Linked DNA regions of Homo sapiens: all the other regions are linked to region 1. The links come from fine-mapping of genetic effects on gene expression. A gene starts in region 1. Each other region holds a variant in brackets. All regions are shown on one strand. Distances are from middle to middle.

Region 1 (8,184 bases):
CAAAAAAGCCAGCTGGGATTTTGACAGGCACTGCACTAAATCTGTTGGTTAATTTGGTGAGCACTGCCATTTTAATATTAAAATTTTCAGGATCATAGCATGTGTCTTTCCACTTAATTTCAATAATGTTTTATAGTTTTCAGAATATGTTTTGCACCTGGTCCATTTATTTCTAAGTATTTGCTTTTTGATGTTATTGGTAATCAACTGTTTTTTGTAATTTCATTTTTGTAGTGTTCATTGCAACTGTCTAGAAATATATTTATGTATATTGAACTTGTATTCTGCAACTTGCTGAACTCGATCATTAGTTTTAACAGATTTTTGTGATTTCCCTTGTGATTTTCTATAGATAAGATCATGTCATTTGTAAACAGATAGTTTAACTTCTTTTTCAACTTGAATGCCATTTAATGTACTTGACTAATTGCCCTGGCCAGACAATGCTGAATATAAATGAGAGTAAATATACTTATTTTGTTCCTGATCTTAGGGAGAAGGCATTCAGTCTTTCACCATTAAATTATGTTAGCTTTGGATATTCTGTAGATGGCATTTAACAGGCTGAAGTCCCTTTTATGTCTAGTTTTATTTATTTATTTAGAGACAGGGTCTTACTCTGTTGCCCAGGCTGGAGTGTAGTGGGGTGTTCTCAGCTCACTGCAACCTTTGTATCCAGGGTTCAAGCGATTCTCGTGCCTCAGCCTCTCAAGCAGCTGGGATTACAGGTAGGCACCACCACGCCTGGCTAATTTTTGTATTTTTAGTAGAAACAGCGTTTCGCTATGTTGGCCAGGCTGGTCTCAAACTCCTGGCCTCAAGTGATCTGCCCACCTCAGCTTCCCAGAGTGCTGGGATTACAGGTGTGAATCACTGCGCCCAGCCTAGTTTGTTTTTATAATCATTAAAGGGGGTGTTGGATGTTGTCAAATGATTTTTGTGAATCTATTGAGATAAGCATGTGGTCTTTGTACTATATTCTTTCCTTGATTGCTTTATTATAAATTGATATGGCACAATACATTAATTTTCAGATGTTAAAACAACCTTGCTTTTCTAATATACCCAAGATATATTTGCTAATATATCTTGGATTCAAAAAGATACTCTTTGAAACTTTTGATGCTTAGTCAAAAAAACCCTGATATTGTAAACTGAGCTTTAAAACACACTTTGCCTGTAATCCCAGCACTTTGGGAGCCTGGCCAACATGGTGAAACCCGGTCTCTATTGAGAACACAAAAATTAGCCAGGCGTGGTGATGGGCGCCTGTAGTCCCAGCTACTCGGGAGGCTGAGGCAGGACGATGGCCTGAATTTGGGAGGCTGAGGTTGCAGTGAGCAGAGATCGCGCTACTGCACTCCAGCCTGGAGGACAAAAGCAAAACTCTGGCTCAAAAACAAACAAACAAACAAACAAAAAAACCCCACACACTTTGTAACTAGGCATCCCAATACTTTTATTGGGGTGCTTTCAAAAATTAATTCTGCTCTGGTTTTAAAAAATAAGCTTTTGAAGGGAGTTAACTGGTTTCAGAGAGATGCAGGCCAAGCTCCTGGTGTTTGTGAGGAAAAAAGGGTGAATGGAGACCAGAGACTTACTGCCTCCAGAAGTGTATGTCATAGTTCAAGTCAGCATAGCACTTGGCGTTTTTTTAAAAATGGTAAAATAATGCACCAAACTAGTAAAATCTTAGTCTTACCTGCACGAGGTATCGTGGATCCACATTTAAATAAGGACACAGAGGGTTCATACCAGTTACTAGAGAGAAAACAAAATGTCACATTGCAACAAAATTCTTTAAGTTAATCCAGTTAGAGTTAATCCAGCTCCTGATTGTTACATGTGTTTGCAATTTTTATAGGCTCACTGAAGGCAGAAAATTTTTTCCCATTTTATCCTCCCTATCTGTCAGTTTGGGGGCTGACTCATCCTGAGACCCTCAATCCCAAACCAGGTCTTCCACTGGTGGCTCAGGCTTTTACACCAATAAGATAATCGCAGTGTCATAGATCTGATTTTTGAACTTACAGGAAGTGTAGTCCAGGCCATTTACAAAGCTAATTTCTTTCACTTTACTACAAGAATGCTTGGTGACTATATAAATTACAAAATAAGACTGAGAAAAGACTAATCAATTCCATGGGAAAAACAGTGGTTGGGTTGGGTTTTCTGACTGTGTACATGTTGTATCTAACTATTTCAAGGCAGTTCCTTCACATATTACTATTAACGATTGATTTACTGTGGCAAGGTTGAGAATCCTTGGGTCATTACCACAGGTATGTGGGTCTGTGCAAAAGAAAACACAAACTTTGAGAGGGCCAGACCTGAATTCACTAACATTGAAAACAGTAAAACCTATCATCTTTGGATCCTTCTGTATCTCAGCAGTTATTTACAAACCTATGCATCACCCATGCCTCTATCTTTTCATCAATTAGGAGTCCTGCTTGTTCTATTTTTAATACCCATTTTGAATTGTGTTACTTATCTTCTCTATTGCTACCATCCTAGTCCAACCATCATATCTCACAGCAACAATTTCCTAACTCCTTGCTTTCTCTTACCCCTTCAATTCACTGTCTACATAGCAACTACGTGATTTTTCTTAAGAAAATCGAAACTCCTTACCATAACTTACAAAATCCTACATTAGCTGTCATTCCCTACCTCTCTGATTTCACAAGCTTCAATTGATCCAACTCCCTTGTAACTACGAAGACAGACTGGCCTAAGAGCTGTTCCTTAAACATGCCAAATTTGTTTTGTTTCAGGACATTTGCACTAGCTATTTTCCTGGATACTTGCCTCCCAAGCATTTGTACTGTATTTGGGTCACAGCTCAAATGTCAACTCCCTTGAGATGTTTTCCCTAATCCGCTCTAAAATGGCATCCTGCTTCCATCACAATCTCATGACTCTGCTTTATTCCCTTTACAGCACTTATCACTAAAGGCAATGTTTTAATTTATGTTTGTTGGTTTACCTCAGTATTATGTAAGCTCTGTGAGCGCAAGGGTCCTCTTTTCAAAAAAAAAAAAAAAAAAAAAAACCCACAAAAACCACTATAGTCCTGCCCCCAGAAAAGTAGCTAGCACACTGTAAAAGCTCAGTAAATGGTGTTCATTCCCTGGTCCCCCAATTTACCTTCAAATCTTAATCAAATTAATTTAACAATATTGTCACATTAAGGAAGTGTATATGCCCTTTGTGCTCTGAAACTCAGAAATACTAAGATTAATATGAAACTGTGTTCTAAACAGGTAAAGTAGTAGCTCAGGCCTAGGAATCCCAGCATTTTGGGAGGCCGAGACAGGAGGATGGCCTGAGTTCGAGAGTTTGAGACCAGCTTGGACAACACAGGGAGACCCCATCTCCACAATAAGTCAAAAAAAAAATTTTAAAAATTAGCCAGGTGTGGTGGTACGTACCTAGATTCCCAGCTACTTAGGAGGCTTAGAGGGGAGGATTGTTTGAGCTCAGGAGTGCCAGGCTTCAGTGAACTATAATCATGCCACCGCACCCCAACATGGGTGACAGAACGAGGTCCTGACTCTAAAAACAAACAAAAAAAAAACGAAACAAAACACCATGTGTTGTAGATTCAGTTTTTTGACAAAGGTGACACCAGGGAAATGAAAGGTCTTTTATATTTTTTTGCACTAGAGTCAGTCTGAACATATTTCGTTGTTGTTGTTCCTTAGTATAAAATACCTAGAGAAATATTACAAGGATTCTCTAAAAAGAAAGTACTTTCGTAAAGGCTTTATCCACGACCAACTGCCTATCTTTAGGTCCAAGTTCTATTTATCTAGTTGAACAACCACAGTTACAAAGTACCAAAGTTCTGGAAAACATATTCACAAGACCGAGGAGAGGCAAAGGCAAGATATTTATGCCTCTGTATACCTTGATGTTGCCTATTTCCTTTCCTATAATTCTTACCTGGCTTCTTTCTTCATGTCTATATATCACCTTTAAAGTTCAGCTTACTTCCTAGCTCCTAAAGAAGGTTTCCTAGCCTGTCCCAAGTCATATTTATTTCTCACTTACATGCAATATTACTGAATATTCTGCCCTTACGGCTACTTGGAGGCTCAGAATATGTCACTGTGTACTAAAAAGTTAACTACGGGCTTGCTATTTGGAATACATTTACTCCCAAAGCTGGGCTCTACTCTTAAGGGTCAATCACACGGCCCACCACACACAAAACGTACGAGGCTTGGATATAAACCTAAGAAAACATGCATCATCTCGCGAGTCCAGGTCAATCACGGACAGCTTCCCCAGGAGATCCGTGGCCCTTTTTTAGGCCTTTCTATCTTGAAAGAGCAGCCATGCAGATACACTAACCCCACCACTGGTACTTAAGCTTGTAAACGCCAGCAAGGAAAAAAAAACCAACAACATAAAACATGGGACGCGCAACTTTAGTGTAAACGCAAGAACCAGTCAGAAATAATCGCAAGCTAGGCCCCATACTTACGCGGGACGCCAGCCAAATCCGCGTGCGAGTAACCTGCTTCGCCGGCTCCGAAAAAGCCGGCCAATACCCCTGTGGTTTTGTCGCCGCTTCCCCCGCCTCCTTCCATGGTATCGCAGCAAACCGAGTGGTTCCCGCCGCTGCCTCAAGCCTGGGTGGTCCGCTGGGCCGTTACTCCTCAATAACAGCGGGTAACCCCGCGTTGCCAGCGCCTACTTCACACGCTGACATTCCGGGCGCCGGTTCCCGTTAAGCGCCACACTTCCGCTTTGCGGCAGTGTGCGCCCCGGAAGCCGGAAGCGCCTGACGGCAGCTTTCCGGTGGTGGGAAAGTGAACGAATCCCGAATCAAAGCGGCGCATTGAGGCAGGTGGGGTGCCAGTGGAAGAGGGAAGGCAGGCGAGTGTTTACGGCCTGACTTGGGAGGCCGGCGGATCAGCAATTGCAGAAGCAGGCAGCGGCAGAGAGGGAATGGTGCAGGCAGGCGCTGAGAAGGAGGCGCAGTCCATCTCTCTCAGGGTTAGTGAATGAGGCTCTCCGCCCGGGCCGGCCCGGGGACAGTGCGCTGCTGGTCCCAGCATGAATGCGGGCCCCGGCTGTGAACCCTGCACCAAGCGACCCCGCTGGGGCGCCGCTACAACTTCGCCGGCTGCTTCGGACGCCCGGAGCTTTCCCAGCAGGCAGAGGCGCGTCCTCGACCCCAAGGACGCTCACGTGCAGTTCAGGGTCCCACCGTCCTCGCCAGCCTGCGTCCCAGGGCGGGCGGGACAGCACAGAGGCAGCGCCACCTCGCTTGGTACGTGGGAAAATAAAAATCTTTGTCCTTCGCCTCGGCCCGAACCTTCTGGTCTCAGTCTGAGGACCCAGGGGCTCCAGTCACTCCTTTCTGGTCTTGTGTGCATCGTCACTCTTGAGGTCCACTTGCTGAGCTACCAAAGCCACTAGTGGGTGAATGGGGCCGCATTTTTCCCAGTGCGATTGATGTGAGAAACTCTGATGAGCAGTCACTCACAGGGCGGAAAATGGCAGGAGACTCCACCACCTGTTTGCTTCTTCAGGTTTGATTGAGAAATTGCCTTAGTCGTCAAGGAGATCTAATTGTGTATGTAAAACAGTAGGGCGCTTCAGCCTCTAGATAGGAAGAAAACAACTTCACTTGTTCAGATTCTGGGTCCCAGGGTGCAGAGCTATTAGTTTAAGCTGGCATTGTACCCGTCCCTGGTATACAGTGTTGAACGAGAGAAACTTGGCCTCTGCCTTCATACCTTAAAATCTATCTGGAGAGATAGACGATAGCAAAAGTTAATATAATAAAAGGTAATGGATGTTCTGATAGATGAATGACAGATTGTTTTACCTAACTGAATTTATGGAATCGAAAATAGTCCTCCAGAAGATGAGATGCTTATTCTGAGGACTGTAGAATGAGTAGGAGTTAGATGAAGAGGAAGTAAGAAGTGTTTCAGGAGTGCAACCGAGGCCGGGCGCGGTGGTTTTGCCTGTAATCCCTGAGCTTTGGGAGGCTGGGGCGGGTGGATCACCTGAGGTCAGGAGCTCAAGACCAGCCTTACCAATATGGTGAAACCCCGTCTCTGCTAAAAATACAAAAAATTAGCCTAGCGTGGTGGCGGGCAACTGTAATCCCAGCTACTCGGGAGGCTGAGGCAGGTGAGGCAGGAGAATCGCTGGCATCCGGGAGGCGGAGGTTGCAGTGAGCCGAGAGGGCACCATTGCACTCCAGCCTGGGCAACAAGAGCGAAACTCCGCCTCAAACAAAACAAAACAAAACAAAACAAAAACAGGAGTGCAATTGATATATAGAGTGAACGCAAGAGAGTGTGAGAGATGAGGCTGCAGGGTGGTACAGAAAAGTCAGATCAAATTGGATATGTAGACATTGCTAAGGATTTTGAACTCTAAGGGCATTGATAAGCTACTCAAGGGTTTTTAGTAGGGGAGTGACTTGATTAGACTTATTTATTTGTTGAAAAGTCTGTGTGGCTGGTGTGTGGAAAATAAAGAATGGATTGAAAAGGAACTCAAGTGGAGCATCAAGACTCAGTTAAGGAGTTAATCTAGGTTGGAAATAATTGTAGCTTAGGCCTGGATGCTGGCAATAGGGAAGGGGATGGATTCATGAAAGAATGGGATACTTGAGAAGAAATATTTCTGTGCTGGAGAAGTAGATTGGGGAGTTCGTGGCATAAACATTATAATGGATGCTATGGGCATAGATAACATAAACATGTAGAGAAAGTAAAGGTGACCTAGGGCAGATGCCTTAGGAACACCAAAGTTTAAGAGTAGACTGAAGAGAAGCGGCTGTAGAGGTGGGAGGAAAGCCTGGCTTGTGTTGTGTCAGACAAAGGAGATCATTTCAAAAAGGATGCATTCGTTAACAGTGTAAGAGGCTGGGCAGAGCTCGGGCAGTTCTCTGGTGAAGAGTCTACACTTAGATGTCTTCATACTTAGGGGCAGTACCAAGTAGACTTGCACTAGGCCTTGAAGGATGAGGAAGATTTGCTGTATAAATCAAGAGGAGAAAGAATTATACATGCAGAGGAAATAAGACATGCAAAAGTTGGTAAGACTGGAGCATAAGATGACAGAGGAGTGTCTGATGAGGCTGGGTGGCAGACAGGAGCTTATGAAGAAACTCAAATTCCATTTTAAGGAATTTCAACCTTATTCTGTGGTTAATGGAGAAACCACTAAAAAGCTTTTAAGCGTGGGAATACCATTTGGTTAATATTTTAGAAAAGTGGCTTTTGGACTTTTCTAACTGCAACCCACAGCATAAATTTTATCCAGTACACAGAGTAAGAAATATATGTAACCTGGCAAATAAGCCATATTTATAACTGAAATAAATGTTTCATGAAATAATACTTAACCTTACTATGTGTGATGCATTCTTATATTGTCTGTGTTATTTCATTGAAAAATGACTGGTCATTTGTAGTTTGTAGAACACTGGATAGTCAAGGCTGTAGACAGGGAGACTAGTTGCAAGAAACAAATGGCAGTTGTCTAGTAAGCGATGTGTTTAAAGGGTATGAGGAAGGGATGGATTTAAAATTTAGGATGTAGATTTCAGAGAACTTGGTATAGGGGAGAGAGAACTGAAGGTGAACTTCAGGTATACGTTCAGGTGTACTTCAGCTTCTGTGACTGGATAATTTGTGGTTTCATTAACCTTATTTGCATGTAAAGGAGGAGGAGTTAGTTGCAAATAGGGGTGAGGGCAGTCAGTCCTCACTGGTTGGATCTTAATTAAGATTTCTGCAGAAGAGGTACCAAATGAATACTTGGGGCTGTATTTCGCATGTTTAAATGTTTTCTGTATACCTGGCACAGGACACCAATTAACAGAATGTTCGAAGACTATATTTGTATCAAAAGCCCATTGTTTGAATTTTTGGGATTCCTTTAGGAACTTGGTATTTAAATTTTTATATATAATTATCTTAGGACAAGTAGGCGGGGTAGCGAAATGGATATTTATTCAGTATCTTTAAATTTTATATTCTTTATCTTCCTGGATATATTTCTTGTATTGACTGAAATCGCTAATTTTGCTGGGCATGCACCTGTAGTCCCAGCTACTTGGGAGGCTAAGGCAAGAGGATCACTTGAGCCCGGGAGTTCCCGTCCAGCCTGAGCAACATAGCGAGACCCCACTTCTGAAAAAAGAAA
Region 2 (8,184 bases), 120 kb after region 1:
AGGGTCAGCTACTGCATTTAGTTGTCATGTTTGTTAGCCTCCTTTTGAATTGAGAATATTTCCACAGCCTTTTTTTGTCTCTTATGACATTGATGTGTTTAAAGAATACAACGTTCTTTGAGTTTGTCTGCTGTTTCCTTGTGATGAGGTTGAGGTTATGCATTCTCTGTCAGAATGCTGCATCAGTGACACTGTCAAGAGGCACTTGATGGCCATCTGACACTACTGGTGATCTTAATTTTGATCACTGTGTCAGGCTGTTGCCCAGTTTCCCCACTGCAGAGTTGAGGATTTTTTTCCTCTCTTGTAACTAATAAGCAATCTGTAGGAAAACAAAGGCAAAATTTTCCCTAGATTTGGCATCTGTTAATGATTCTTGCCTGACCTTTACCACAGTGGTTGCAAAGAAAGGATGTTCCTATTCTAACACCCCAACCACACTTACCAGTTAGTCTTTGGCTTTCTCCTGTGGGGAAGAGCTGGCCCGTCTGTTTTTTGTTTCGTTTTGTTTTATCCATTTGAGCACTACTTTACCTTCTGGTATAACAAAATATTTTGAGGTCATCTTGTACCTTTCTTGTCCAAACTATAGCATTAAGCACTTCTTGAGAAATCTAGTTCCATTTAGGGGGAATGATGGTAGAGACCAAGATTTGGGTGCTGAGTGTGCTCATTGCTACTGTGGTGTCTCCCTTTTGGCCCTTTTAGCAGACAGAGCTAGGAAATATATATGTGCATACACACACATACACACACACACACACACAGATACACATATTTTCGACATCATGAGTATACACCAATGCCTTCCATTTCAGTCCATCCTCACACAGTTCTTTTTTGTCTTCCTCCATTCCATTTTTGTGTGTCCCTCCTTCCATAGTGAGACACCTGTTCCCAGCAGCATCAACACATTTATTCATTTGCTCATTCCTCTAATACAATTCAAAATAGTTTCAGAGTTGCTTCACCTCTACTACTATGGTAAGCAAACCTTGTAAAAAGAGTTGGGAATTTGTTTGCAGTTCTCTCTTTCTGGCCTAAGACCATATATTATGGTCTTATGGACTTATATAAGTCATATATTGTCTTTGTAAGTTACTTGGGTTCTTTCTTTCTTCCTGTTCTTCTTCCTTTCCCTTCAATGTGGTTATGTTATTTATTTGGACTAAAATTACGCTCATTTATTTTAGTTTACCTTCAATTGTAGGTTTCTTCCCATTCCCATTCTTAGTATTTTAATTTTAATTTGTAAATATGTAGAATATTAACATGCTGTCAAAAATCAAAACTGTAAAAAGATACCCTCTTTGGCCAGGCACATTGGCGCATGCCTGTAATCCCCACACTTTGGGAGGCCGAGACGGGCAGATCACTTGAGGTCAGGAGTTCGAGACCAGCCTGGCCAACATGGTGAAACCGTGTCTTTACTAAAAATACAGAAATTAGCCAGGTATGGTGGCAGGCTCCTGTAATCCCAGCTACTTGGGAGGCTGAGGCAGGAGAATCGCTTGAACCCGGGAGGCAGAGGTTGCAGTGAGCTGAGATCACACCACTACATTCCAGCCTGGGTGACAGAGCAAGACTCCATCTCAAAAAATATATATATCCTCTTTAATGTTTTAATTTGATTCCCATCTTCCCTTTTATGAAGTAAGAGATTTATAACTAGCGAAAGGGCATTTATTGTAACTGTATTCAATTTTGTGGTTATTTAAAATCCTATCTATTGAGATTGTAAGGTAACTAAATTTTCGGAAACATACTTCAGGCTCAGTGATTTGTAACTTTGATTCCTGGAGATAGTAGATCTCGATTGTTTTTTCATTCTTATAACACACCAGAGAGTGACTGTCCAGTGTTTTCAGGAACTCTGCAGAACGGGAGTTCTGCAGTGGCCAGTGGAGGTGGGAGTGCAGGAGGGACGCAGGTGTGCTCCCCAGCCCATTTTGAGAACTCCTGCTGTGGGATTAAGGAGAACATTAGAACCTCCCAAATGTGCCTATACAAAAGGCCAGTGGCTGTGTGATAAGACACAGCAATTATATCAAGTAAGCAAACACAAAAAATTTTAGTTCCAGATTAATAGAAGCGAATATAAATACTACCTTAGTCCCATGGTTTGCAGCTTCCTTTATTTGTGGTTCAGCAAAGGTGCCTGTGTTGGAATTCTATAGTTTGATGATATTCTTGGCAGCATGTCTGAAAAGCCACACAACTAGATGATTTATGTCCATCCTGTATTCCCCATTTCTTTTTTTTTTTTTTTGAGATGGAGTCTTGCCCTGTCACCCAGGCTGGAGTGCAGTGGTGCGATCTCGGCTCACCTGCCACCTCCACCTCCCAGGTTCAAGCAATTCTCCTGCTTCAGCCTCCCGAGTAGCTGGGATTACAGTCACCTGCCACCACACCCGGCTAAATTTTTTTTTTGTATTTTTAGTAGGGTTTCACCATGTTGGCCAGGCTGGTCTCGAACTCCTGGTCTCAGGTGATCTGCCTGCCTCAGCCTCCCAGAGTGCTGGGATTACAGGTGTGAGGCACCGCGCCCAGCCTTGTGTTCCCCATTTCTAATACCATGTATACTGGGTTTATAAATCTTTAATCTAGGATGAAGCTGTGGCACACCAGCTGGTAAAGAGCTAAAGGTATCTAGGTGGAAAATGTCATGATATAGCCGTGTCTTTTCTCTTTGCCTCAGCCTTAATACAGATATTGGCAGCTGCTGCAGCTGAGCGAGATGTGGTTTATTTCACCTTTGGGGACTCAGAATTGATGAGAGACATTTACAGCATGCACATTTTCCTTACTGAAAGGAAACTCACTGTTGGTAAGTAGGAGATACTCTTGACACTTGGTATCTAGATGGATTGTACACCATTCAGTGGGAACACTTGCTAAATCTGGATGAATCACAGTGGGTACGAAGAAACAAAAGCATGGCTCTAAGCAGGAAGGACAAACCCTCAGAGGGGCAGCATTTGCAGAGTCTTTTTGTTCTGGCAGAGTTTCATCCACAGTCTTGATAGGGTATATCAGCTTACTAAAGTAAGGTCAAGAAGCTGAAGTTGGTGTTCATTTTTACTTTTCTGTCTATAAAAATCTAAAATGGGAAAGATGAATGAGGGTAAGTTCAGATCTGAGAAGCCCCACTGTCCTGTTTCTCAGACCTGCCAGCGCTCATCCAGTGTGCTTGCTACCTCAGGAGCAAAGTGTATAACGAGGGCTGCCATGACAGTGCATAACGAGGGTGCATGGACAGTGTACCATGGATAGCCTGTTGTTATCATGAGCAAAGAAGTTGTTTCTTTAAAGAGTGTTAAAAATCTTGTTTAATTTATGTTGGGAAAGCCTTTCAGGCATATGAAATTCATGCTGTATTTTCAAAAGCCAAGTCTGAGCATATGCCATTTAGATTAAGATAAAACTGGAGTGTTCTTTCTAAGGTTTTTTC[A/T]ATTACATACTTTAATGTGCCTCTGGTCTGACCTTTTGCTCTCCAGGAGATGTGTATAAGCTGTTGCTACGATACTACAATGAAGAATGCAGAAACTGTTCCACCCCTGGACCAGACATCAAGCTTTATCCATTCATATACCATGCTGTCGAGTCCTGTGCAGAGACCGCTGACCATTCAGGGCAAAGGACAGGGACCTGAGGAGCCGAGCGAATAGCATCTCCTCCCACCTCCCACCAGAGACGTCCTGTTTGAGCTGTCAGGTGTAATATATGAATTGACTTAAGTTAATATAAATGTGTACATAATCCACATTTGTAGTCAAGGACGCAATCTCTTCCACACATGTGCAGTTGTCAGTTGGTACATCTAAACTCCCTCCATCCTGACTCACGTGGACTTAGATATGTTTTGTTTCTATTTTCTTCTATTTCAGTTTTTCATTCTTTGATGTTTATTTCTTTTGTCCATCAGATCTCTTGTGAAATCCCATGGAAGGTTGTGCTCAGCCTGTCGGGTCTCTTTCTTCCTGCCCATATATTATACCAGTTGCTTCTGCAGCCCGCAGATGCCAGCGATGCCAGGAAACAAGTTGAAATCCAGGAATCTCTTTAACTGATTTTGCTAAAAATCTCCCTGTGAGCCTTCCACTCAACTCTTAATATGCTTGCATTGTTTAAGTTTTTAAATTCTGAAAATTAATAATTAGGGTTTTTTTCATATGTGTTGCATAATGCAAACCTCCTAGGTTAAAATAGTTTCTTTATTTAAGATAGAATAATTTCCAGAAATTGTACTTTTGAGGTATCATTTTTATCTGTAATGGTTTGTCTGTCTTTTTTCCTCTGATCAGTATTTTTTTATACCAGTTTTGGAGACTGGCTGAGATGAAAGGAAATGTGGAATAAAAGGAGGTTTTCCTGATGTGGTGTAAAGAAAACAGATTCAAGAGAATTGAAGATTTTTTTTGTTTCTTGGTACTTTTTTCTTTTTAAATTAGGACTAATGTTTCTTTTGTGGTGCTTGAGGCATATTCATATAACCAAAGTTTGAGAACTGGGAACTTCATGCTGATTTGTACATATTGAAGTTTCTCTGGTATTCAAAGGTTATATAGTGAATGAATTTTCATTAATAAATCACTTTGTCAGAAACTCCCATATCATCTATATTTTATATATGTATATATAAACGTATGCTCTTTAAGTGTGTCTATATGTGAGCACATAAAATCTAAATAAAATTGGACTGGTGGGAAACAATTAGGTTTAGGCATTATTTGGGTTCTGTTTAACGTCCTTTATCACAATTATGCATTTTTAAATCTGGCGACAAACATAAATAATAATGTCTTTCAGAGGTTAAAGTGAAAGCCAAAGCCCATCCTGTGTTAACCGAAAGTGGAGTTTCATCACAGAAGCACTTACTACTCAGATTTCCAAAACAATCCTAAACCACCCTGTTGTTGTTCTGGTTTACCATCAGCTGTCAGGAAACGCTAGTGGCGGTCAAATCCTATTCGTAAGGCACTTCAGTGGATGGCCTGACCTCCTGCTACTGGCAGGAAAAAGACAGGGCCTTGGCTGGTGGCCATCACACTTTTTGTTTATGTAGAGATTGAGAGGATAGTGAGATTTGGCACCTGAAGGCAGCCACTTGTCACTGAAGTTTTTTACCACAATAACTAAGATTTTTAGTCATCTCTCAAATTTGGAAGAATCTGTCTTTAGTTCTGTTGATACTAAAATCTTTCCCATTCTTTGCTTTGGTTGCAGATTCATGGTTGTTTCATGTCCTCACTTTTTCTAGCTCCACACTCGTCTCCTCCTGTGCAGCCCAAGACTAAGTGACCCGTTCTTTAAAATGTTTCATGAATAGGGTAGGTTGGTTCTTATGGTAGAGAAATCATTAATCCAAGTAAGAAGTCACCCAGCTGGGTATTCCAAAACACAGAAAGTAAGACTCTTTTGTGGAGAGCTGTGTAAACAAATGGCCTAACTCCTAACATAAATGTAAGATGGGCCAGCTAAATGCCCTTTGATGACTTAATGTAGGAGCTAAGAGCCAGTCAGTGACTGCCATCCCCATTCCACTGGGGCCTAGACTCTAGGAAAGTAGCACTAGAGGTTACAAAGTTATATTCTAATGGAAATGTTACATTTCCCTGTAGTGAATCCATACAAGTAGGGCAAAAGGTGAAGTTTCTTTTATTGTAGCTGGAATTATATTACCTCAATCCAAATAGTATAATTTCATCCATAAAAGACAAAATTAGCTTAACAAGTGAACTTTACTTGGTTATCAAAGTATTTTAAAATATGGAGACCTTGGGGATAAATTAATACAGGAGGTTCTTGGTGGTAAAAGGTGGAGACCATCATTGTGGAATCTTGTATTTTCTATTAAGGTTTGTAATAGTCCTACAAACTTGAACATAAATTTTTAATATTTGGGAAGGAACATTCACTGAAGAATTGATAATAGACTAAAAAATATAGCTGTTATCAATTAATACATGATCTGTCCTTGAACACATATTCACCATTATGTAAACCTCACATTATTTCAGCTTATTTATTCCACAGATACCAATAGACATGTTTTCACATTGTAGCATCTCCCAAATCAAAATACTTCTAAAAATTGGTAGTATGTCGGCCGGGCGCAGTGGCTCACGCCTGTAATCCCAGCACTTTGGGAGGCCAAGGTGGGTGGATCACCTGAGGCCAGGAGTTCGAGACTAGCCCGGCTAACATGGTGAAACCCCATCTCTACTAAAAATAAAAAATTAGCTGGGCATAGTGGCAGGCATCTGTAATCCCAGCTACTTGGGAGGCTGAGGCAGGAGAGTCGCTTGAACCCAGGAGGTGGAGTTTGCAGTGAGCCGAGATCATGCCAGTGCATTCCAGCCTGGGTGACAAGAGCAAAACTCCATCTCAAAAAAAAAAAAAAAAGAAAAGAAAAGAAAAGAAAACTGGTAGTATGTGTCACAATTTGCAGAAATTTTTCCTATTGGTACATAAAATTAAGACACATTTTACAATCTATGGCATCTTGTATTTGACAAAACGTGGTAATTTGAGTAACAACTATATGCCAGTCACTTTAAAGTTTTGGAGCTTATAATTGTGACCAAGATAGACTGAATCCCTGTTAACGAGTTTATACTCTACCAGGGAACATAGACAATAGCTACAGATAAATCATGATTATTGTAAGATTCTGTAATATTAGAGTGGGGTAGTCAGGAAATTTTTTTTAAAGGAGCATTTCGGACATATACAAAAATAAAATAGGGTAATATACCTGTCACTTATCTTCAATATTTATCCGTTCATGGCTAATCTCACTTCCACCTATATTCCTACCCATTTACCCATGCCAAATTATTACAAAGTTCATCCCAGACATTATATTTTATCTGTAAATCAGTATGTCTTAAAAAGATGACCACAGGATCATCACACACACACATCAAAATAATCGGAAAAGGACTTCTGATTCCAAAAGATGGAATAAACATACTTTTCTCTATTCTTTCTTCTAAACTCATTTAAAAAACCCTGAACATTATATATAAAACAAACAAGAACACTTTGAAAGTTGGAAAAAAGAAGGCAGAATTGCTAGAGACCTTGGGAATCAAGGAATAAAATAGTGGTGAGTTCCCTGGATTTTCTTACTGCCTTGTATATCCCATACTTAATACCAGTTACTGGAGAACCCAACAACCTGGAATGGCTGTATGTAGACAGAGGCTCAAGAAGAGCCCATTCTCTGTAGCTAAAGGACCAGGAAAGTGCAACCAAAAGCAATGACACATTGTCTACAAGACAAACACAAAAAAGGAAAACTAACAGAATTAGTTGCCAGCAGACCTGCCCTGATAAAATGGCTAAAGGAAGTTTTTTTTGTTTTTGTTTTTGTTTTTTTTAAACAGTGCAAAGGTCTTTTGTTGTTGTTGTTGTTACACACCTATTATGGCATGAATTAGTAGAGAACAGGTTCTGGCAGCTCAGGCTCCTTCCCATTGGTTCTCAGAAAGTGTGCTTCTCTGAGAAGAACAGGCTGGCGCCTCAGTTAAGCCCAGGTACCTTTCTCTTTGGCTTCCTTTTTTTCTGGTCATTTTCCTTCACACTTCTCAAGACGCTATCTCAACCTTTAGAGTCCTTACTACACTCAGTATGCACATTAATCTCTTGACAAGAGTATTCCCCTTAATTTGTTTACAACAATGCCAATAGCATGGTGGGTAACATTGTGGACTCCCAGTTTTGCCATGGGAACATTTGTGGGTATTCCTTTTCAAACAGTTCCCATACTGATGTCTATGGTATGACTTTTCTTGTTAGATTCGTGTGTATGTGGCCAAAGGAACAACTGCATGTTATAAAAGGTCCAGAGAACATATATCAGGTGCCTCTCCTCCTTTTTGTGTTTGTCATTTTGGTGAATTATTAGAAAATTGTGGTTCTGGCTGAAATGCTAAAGAAGTTCTTGAAACAGAAAGGAAACCATCAATGAAGGAATCTTGGAAGATCAGGGAGGAAGAGTAGAAACAGTAAAAGTATGGGTAAATACAATACACCTCTGTGGGTTTCGAAATTACATTTTTTGAAGCAAAATATAATTATGTCTATTGGGGTTTTCACTGTATGCAGAGAAAATAATTGTTATAAATGTGGGAAAGAAAAGGGGCATAGAGGTAAGGTTTCGGCTCACACAAACAATTA
Region 3 (8,184 bases), 100 kb before region 1:
ATGAGTTAGGCCAGCTAGGGGGGAAATGATTTCTCAGCCATCGCTAGGTTCATGGTTGAGTCCCTTAGAACAAATGACAGATTAACCAGAGAAAAGTGTGCAAGTTTACGTAAGATAAGTTTTACCAGACACAGGAGCCTTCAGAAAGAAAAACTCAAGAGAAACAGGAAATCCTGTGTCAATTTGATGCTGTCTGATGAAGAAGCGGACAGTTTTGGGGAGCACGATTAGATGAAAGGGGTGTGACCTGATGGGAATAAGCTGGGGGGAGCTCAGCAAGGCCTGTGTGGTCAGATCATTCTCTGCATCTTTACAAATAAGGAGGCTCCTTTCCTCTGGGAATAGGGAGGACTGGAATGAAGGTCTTATGACCTACTCCAGAGAGGGTTAGAGGATTCTTCTATGTCCTCCTTCAGAGGAGAAGGGCCAGGGAGAGGTCAGAGACATCTTTCTGCTTCTGTTTTCTCAAATGCCAAGGTGTCATATTTTGAGGTAGCATGTCCCGTATACCCCAATGGCCATATATACTAGTATCTTGTTAAATGACTACTGTGTTTCATTAATTTAGAACTATAGTTAGGAGGAGTTACATATTGAGGTTAAACTCCTTTTTGAGGGAGTCTTAACAATATTTCTGTTTGTGATCTGGATAGATACTACCAAATCAGTTAGTTTAGTTGCTAACTCAATCAGATTTAGTAGCAGGGAATCAGATTTAGCTGTGCAGAAAAAGACTTTAAATATGATGACATAAAAAATCCTCAGTGTTAAACATCTTCCTGTGTTATAATAATTCCTCTTTTTTTTAACATTGTAGGCAAGTTAGGAGCGGGTGAAGTGGATATATAAGTCATAGATATGTTCATGTTCTTACTGAAAGCAATTTAAAAATTCCGAAGCAGATTGCAAAAAAAATGTATTAAAAGCTTATGCGGCTGGGCGTGGAGGCTCACGTCTGTAATCCCAGCACTTTGAGAGTCTGAGGCAGGCAGATCACTTGAGGTTGGGAGTTCGGAACCAGCCTGACATGGAGAAACCTTGTCTCTATTAAAAATACAAAAAAATTAGCAGCTTGTGGTGGCGCATGCCTGTAATCCCAACTACTCAGGAGGCTGAGGCAGGAGAATAACTTGAACCCAGGAGACGGAGGTTGTTGTGAGCCGAGATCGCGCCATTGCACTCCAGCCTGGGCAACGAGCGAAACTCCGTCTCAAAAAAAAAAAAAGAGAGAAAAGCTTATGCAACACACATGTGAACAAGACACAACGAAAAACTGCTAGCAATCCTTTTACTACAAAAGTCTGACTCTGGCCTTTAGAAAGCATTTAAGGAATTCCCACCCAGCTGTGCTCACATTTCCACATCAAGGAATTCCCAAGCATATATAATTTGTGTTTTCTACTCGAACATATGAATTTATGATGGATTATCCAGTTTTTTTCTTTTAAACATTGTCAGTGATTGTTCCCCCTGTAGCAACAGCCAGACATCAGTGTAGTTGCTCCTACTAGAGTATTATAGTGGTTCAGGGAAAATAAAAACATTACCTAAAGCTTGGAGCAAAAAGATATGCAGAGGAAAGATAGCCAAGGTTCTAGAACAGGGGCGTCCAGTCTTTTGGCTTCCCTGGCCCACACTGGAAGAAGAAGAATTGTCTTGGGTCACACATAAAATGCACTAATACTAACAATAGCTGATGAACTAAAAAAAAAAAAAAAAAAAGGTTCATGCATAAATCCCATAATGTTTTAAGAAAGTTTACAGATTTGTGGTGGGCCGCATTCAAAGCCATACTGGGCTGTGTGTGGCCCATGGGCCACGGGTTGGACAAGCTTGTCCTAGAACAAAGGCTGTCAACTTCGGCTGCTCACTGGGATCCATGGGGAACTTAAAAGAGTGCTGACAGGCCAGGCACAGTGGCTCACGCCTGTAATCCCAGCAGTCTGGGAGGCAGAGGTGGGCAGATCACCTGAGATTAGGAGTTTGAGACCAGGCTGGCCAACATGGCGAAACTCCGTCTCTACTAAAAAATATAGAAATTATCTGGGCGTGGTGGTGCCTGCCTGTAATCCCAGCTACTCAGGAGGCTGAAGCAGGAGAATCACTGGAACCTGGGAGGCAGAGGTTGCAGTGAGCCAAGATCGTGCCACTGCACTGCAGCCAGGGCCACAGAGCGAGACTCTGTCTCAAAAAAGGAAAAAAAATAAAAAGAAAAGACCTAATGAGTGCTGACAGTGGATCCCAGCTCCAGAGATTCTGAATTAATCTGGTTGGGGTACAGCCTCGTCATTGGAGTTTTGTGATGCTCTCTAGTGGATTTCAGCATTTAGTCACTGCTAAACATTGAGGAGCACTTCTCAAACCTTCATGTTTAGGAAATCACCTGGGCACCCTGTGAAATGCAGGTTCTGACTCAGAAAATAGGGGCGGGGCCTGAAATTCTGCATAATCTGCTGCTGGCTTGTGGACTCCACTTTGATTTGTAAGACTCTAGACTCCAGAGATACAGCACTTATGCAAGTGCTTGGGAGTTCTTTGATTTGAAGGGGTGTGAGCACAGTCGAGTAGAATTTCCCTAAATGCTTTCTAAAGGCCACATTCAGACTTGTGGTAAAAGGATTACTAGCAGTTTTTCATTGTGTCTTGTTCACATGTGTGTTGCATGAGTTTTTACACTTTTTTTTTCAATCTGCTTTAGGATTTTTAGAATTAAAATGTCATTCTTCTCTGGAGTTGGAAGTTTTTGAGTTCTTGGTATTTTTACATTCGGCTTCCTTATAGCCTCTGTAATTAATGTTGATCCCTTGAAATAAACAAGTCGCTTGTCGTAATATAGTGCAGAACCACAGTAGGAAGAGATATCATGGCAGATGTTGGAGGAAGAAATCATGGGAAGCTCTGTGAGGTCAGAGAGCCCAGCTGTCTAGATTTGAGTTCAAAGGAAAGTCTTAGGCATGAGCTTTCTTCAAGACTGATGCACTAAGTTTAATACTTAGTTTAAATACAACTTAGTTTAACAAATATAAGTTTTATTTTACTTCCCATGTTTTATAATCTAAATTGCCATTGGACTTTTTTTTTTTTTTTTTTTTTT[TG/G]AGACAGAGTCTCGCTCTGTCCCCCAGGCTGGAGTGCAGTGGCGTGATCTCTGTTCACTGCAAGCTCCGCCTGCTGGGTTCACTCCATTCTCCTGCCTCAGCCTCCCAAATAGCTGTGACTACAGGTGCCTGTCACCGTGCCTGGCTCATTTTTTTGTGTTTTTAGTAGAGATGGGGTTTCACCGTGTTAGCCAGGATGGTCTCAATCTCCTGACCTTGTGATCCACATGCCTCAGCCTCCCAAAGTGCTGGGTTTACAGGCATGAGACACTGCGCCCAGCCTATGGCAATATTTTTAATGGCAGCTTCACATTCTGGATATCTTTATGTTGGGGAAAAAGTTTCAAAGGTAACTGCTCTTCTGTAGCTAAGCTTTTTTAGAGCAGAGGATGGAGCAAATTCTGAGTTACTGAAATTACATATTTAGCGCTATTGCCTTGTTTAGCTTTAACTTCTATTTCATCTTTATAGTTGTCTTTTCAGACGTTTTCAGAAGAGATGAGAGAAATGCTTTGGGAATTGATTTGGAAATCTTTTTGCTGTCATTACTTTTAATAGCTAGATATATGTTTTAATTGTAAAAAATTCTGGAAATACTTTTTTCTCTACCTGCCCCCATTTTTTTTTGTTTTTTTTCTGAGACAAGGTCTGGTTGTGTTGCCCAGGCTGGGGTGCGGTGGCATAATCATACCTTGCTGCACCTTTGAGCTCCAGGACTCCAGTGATCCTCCCACCTTAGCCTCCTGAATGGCTGGGACTACAGATGTGTGCCATCATGCCCAGCTAATTTTTTTTTTAATTTTGTAGAGACAAGGATCTTGCTATGTTGCCCAGGCTGGTCTCAACCTTCTTACCTCAAGTGATTCTCCCACCTTGGCCTCCTGAATTGCTGGGATTACAGGCATGAGCTACCGTGGCCAGCTTTTTTTCTGTTTTGTTTCTTGTTCCCCTTCTGTTTTGTTTTTTTTAGCTGTTTTTCCATCCCATCTTTAAGTCTTCATTGCCCCCTCATTTTCCAACATCATGAGTCCCACAGCATGCTCAGCTAAGCACGACCACACACCATTTCAAGAAGCTGTTCATGGACCCAGCTTTTAGTACTGGCTGGGTCTTTGTCCTGCTGCAGCTTCCATTTGTTCCTCAGCTACCCTCTAGGCATCCAGTCTGGCTTAACCAGATTTCATGGCCTCATTTTGTCCTCTGCTACAGTGATTTCTACTCCTGAGGAGAAGCATAACTATCTTCTAGAGGGAAACATTTTCCTTTTGGTTATCAATCTTAGTTCTTTTAGGATATTGGAAATTACCCCATTGACTGGACCCAGACTTATGGTGGAAGTTCCAGCACAATTAATACTGAACGGGGTTGTGCTTTTTCTTCTGGCATATAATTGAATTATCCATTCTCATTATAGGTGAAGGACTTGCAAATCTGTTTGTTATCTTCTACCCTCCCCCAGCCTATTATTTTCAGGGTCTCACTATGGAAGAACACTGTGGTGAAGGAAACAATCCAGATTCCTTTGGCAGTCATAGTCACTCATGTCTTTATTTCTGTCATGTGCATTTTGCAGTCCTGACACCTGACTTCTGTTGCTAGAGCCGCAACTATGTAGGTAGGAGTACTGTTGGCTTCGGGGATACACACACTGGTGACCCTATAGGACAGTCTTATTTGATATAGCATAAGTATGTTTTTAAGAATTCATGTTATCCAAAATTATAAAAGCAGTTGTTTGAATGAGTGAAAGAAAGGGGGTTAAGTTTAGAGAGCTCCATACAAAGTCATATATAAGCAATGCAGCTTTTAAATTTAGCTTTTATTTAAGAGCAATGACCCTTTACCACTATCACCAGCAGTATTATTAGCCTGGTACCTTGTATTACTCTAATACCCATCATTTTGAAATGTGGTGCAACAACACTCAAAAGAGCTATGCTACAAGAAACAACTTTCCTTTCTGTAATGCCCTCCCTTTAGGATCACTAGAAGTTTGAACAATGCAATTCAGATTCCCAAATTAATTATCTTTCCTATTAATATTATAAAAACTCATAGCAGATTCCTGTATGTGCATGTATGTTATGAGTTGGATAAACATTGATGGACTTCATTTGGAGTGAATCAGAATGGGATTCCTGTGAGAAGCCAACATCCCTCTAAACAAACTTTTGGAGCATGATATGGCTTGGATGTTTTGTCCCCTCCAAATCTCATGTTGAAATCTGACCGCCAGTATCGGAAGTGGGCCTAGTGGGAGGTGTTTGGGTCATGGGGGTGGATCCTCATGAATGTCTTGGTGCTGCCCTTGTGGTAATGAATGAGTTCTCACTCTGATTTCACATGAGATCTGGATTAAAAGAACCTGGGGGCTAGGCATGGTGGCTCATGCCTGTAATCTCAGCACTTTGGGAGGCTGAGGCTGGCAGATCACAATTTCAGGAGATGGAGACCATCCTGGCCAACATCTTGAAACCCTATCTCTACTAAAAATACAAAAATTAGCCAGGTGTGGTGGCACGTATCTGTAGTCCCAGCTACTCAGGAGGCTGAGGCAGGAGAATCGCTTGAACCCAGGAGGCAGATGTTGCAGTGAGCTGAGATCGCGCCACTGCACTCCAGCCTGGGTGACAGAGCAAGACTCTGTCTTAAACAAACAAATAAACACAACCTGGCACCTCTTTCTTCTCTCTCTCTTGTTCTCTCACCATGTAACATGCTGGCTCCTTTCCTCTTGCCATGATTGTAAACTTCCTGAGGCCCTCACCAGAAGCAGATACCAGCATTATACTCCTTGTACACTCTACGGAACTGTGAGCCAAAATAAAACTCTTTTCTTTATAAATTGCCCAGTCTCAGGTATTCCTTTATAGCAATATGAACAGGCTAACACAGAGGATAACCAAATATTTATTAATGTCTAAAACTTGGAGAATACCTTACCTATAGCACAGGTTTGTTCTGAGGATCAATTGAAAGACTAAAATATCTATTCTTTCCTTGAACAAAGCTTTAATGAGTACCAATATGTGCAAAAGACTGTGCTAGGTGGTAGAGATCAGATGTGCTCCCTTCAGTTTAGTTAAAAATGAAATTGTTAGGGGCTGGACACAGTGGCTCATGCCTGTAATCCCAGCACTTTGGGAGGCCAAGGTGGGCAGATCACGAGGTCAGGAATTTGATACTATTCTGGTTAACATGGTGAAACCCCATCTCTACTAAAAATATAAAAAATTAGCCACGCGTGGTGGCAGGCGCCTGTAATCCCAGCTACTCGGGAGGCTGAGGCAGGAGAATGGCATGAACCTGGGAGGCGGAGCTTGCAGTGAGTCAAGATCATGCCACTGCACTCCAGCCTGGGTGACAGAGAGAGACTCCGTCTCAATAAATAAAGAAATAATAAAATAAAGAAATTGTTATGGGTGCAATATATGATGTAGGTAGTAGTGTAAAGGGGGTAGGTATAAAAGCTTTGTGGAATAGTTGATATTGGAGCTGAATGTTGAAAGGTGATTAGGTGCTTGTCAGGTAACCATGTGTGCACAAGATAGTAAGTAGAGCAGAGCAGGAGCAACAATATAGAAGCTGATGTGTTCTGAAGCTGCAGATGCAGATGATTAGAGGATAGAAGTACCAGAGATGTTGCAAGATGAGGTGAGGTTGTAGATGAGTAAAATGGGGCCGGAATGTGAGATGCATAATCTTGGGAGCATTTCTAAGGAGTCTGAATTATATTCTATAGACAGGGAGAAGTCATTATAGGACCTTGAGGCAAGAAATAACATGATCAGTTCTACATTTTCAAAAGATAACTGTGCTCCACATTATGTGTCATTAGGGAAATACAAATTAAAACAGCAGTGACGTACTATTACATGACTGTTACAATGGCTGAAATCCAAAACACTGACAACACCAAAGCTGGGGAAGATGGGGAGCAACAGGAACTCTCATTCACTGCCAGTGGGAATACAAAATGGTACTTTGGAGGATTGTTTGGCAACTTCTTACATATTCTTACTGTATGATCCAGCAATTATGCTCCTTGGAATTTGCCCAAGTGAGTAGAAAACATGTTCACACAAAAACCTGCATACAGATGTGTATGGAAGCTTTTTTCACAATTGCCAAAACTTGGAAGCAACCAAGATGTCCTTCAGTAGATGAATGTATTAATAAACTCTGTACTATACCCAGACAATGGACTGTTATTCAGCACCAAAAAGAAATGAGCTATATCAACCCATGAAAAGACATGGAAGAATCTTAAGTGTGTGTTACTAAGTGAAAGAAGCCAATCTGAAAAGGCCGTATACTATAAAATCCCGAATTATGTCTGGAAAAGGTAAAAGTATGGAGATGGTAAAAAGTGTAGTGTTTGCCAGGATCTGAGGGGAGAGAGGAATGAATAGGCAAAGCACAGAGGATTTGTAGCACAGTGTATGTATTCTGTGTGGTACTGTAATGGTGAATACACGTCATTATGCATTAGTTCAAATCCGTCAAGAGTGAACCCTAATGTAAATTACAAACTTCTATTTATGTGTGAAAATGATGTGTCACTGTGGGGTTCATCAGTTGTAATAAATGTACCACTCTGGTGCAGGTTGTGATAGGAGAAGGCTGTGGGAGTGAGGGTCATATAGGAACTCTGTAATTTCTGCTCAGTTCTGCTGCTCAAAAAATGAAATCTATTCAAAAAGGAACCTTTTCATGTTTAGACTAACTTAGTTCATTTCCCTCATTTAGTTCCTTCATTGTTGAGGTTTCATTGCAATGCATTCTAAAGTCAAACATAAAATTATTTTAGAACTTTGTGTGACTTCTCTGCTTGCTTAAACATCATTGCTGAATAATGTAAAAATATGATACCCTAATCTAGTTTTCATAAACATTTTTTCAAAATTGAAATTAAAACTGGCTTCATGGACAGATGGGTTGAAAGAGTGAAAGGCAAGAATCGAGGATCAAAACTAGGCCATGAAAATTGCTCAGTTGAGAGCTAATGAAGCCCTAAATTAAGCCCTAATCATTGTAGATGGAGTGGGTGTCAGATATAAACAATATTAAGAGGCTGGGCCCAGTGGCT

Direction of the effects. Alleles are on the strand shown, and positions count from the first base shown. SD is a standard deviation of normalised expression in the study named. Not every link is listed here.
For the expression in lymphoblastoid cells of the gene that starts at base 4,766 in region 1, allele T in region 2 goes with a lower level than allele A (large effect, 1.3 SD a copy in GEUVADIS).

Evidence for each region. PIP is the estimated chance that this variant, and not a neighbour inherited with it, causes the effect.
Region 2: its variant is the best candidate, but not a certain one, in a credible set for the expression of PARG in lymphoblastoid cells (GEUVADIS, PIP 0.58).
Region 3: its variant is the best candidate, but not a certain one, in a credible set for the expression of PARG in neutrophils (BLUEPRINT, PIP 0.56).

The regions. Positions count from the first base shown.
Region 1 is chr10:49,938,609-49,946,792 of GRCh38, reverse strand. PARG (poly(ADP-ribose) glycohydrolase) reads left to right here and starts at 4,766. Exons shown (of 18, transcript NM_003631.5): 1 at 4,766-5,284. The coding sequence starts at 5,068. It overlaps TIMM23B (translocase of inner mitochondrial membrane 23 homolog B), which reads right to left and starts at 4,740. Exons shown (of 7, transcript NM_001290117.2): 1 at 4,493-4,740; 2 at 1,703-1,761. The coding sequence starts at 4,598. It overlaps TIMM23B-AGAP6 (TIMM23B-AGAP6 readthrough (NMD candidate)), which reads right to left and starts at 4,740. Exons shown (of 17, transcript NR_158661.1): 1 at 4,493-4,740; 2 at 3,435-3,558; 3 at 1,703-1,761. RefSeq lists an enhancer at 4,856-4,925.
Region 2 is chr10:49,814,808-49,822,991 of GRCh38, reverse strand. It overlaps PARG (poly(ADP-ribose) glycohydrolase), which reads left to right. Exons shown (of 18, transcript NM_003631.5): 17 at 2,699-2,827; 18 at 3,498-4,713. The coding sequence ends at 3,652. It also overlaps the pseudogene RPL21P89. Among named protein-coding and RNA genes, the nearest start is that of OGDHL, 57 kb to the right of the region's middle. The variant A/T (reference allele first, on the strand shown) is at 3,452.
Region 3 is chr10:50,039,773-50,047,956 of GRCh38, reverse strand. It overlaps the pseudogene FAM21EP. Among named protein-coding and RNA genes, the nearest start is that of WASHC2A, 24 kb to the left of the region's middle. The variant TG/G (reference allele first, on the strand shown) is at 3,095.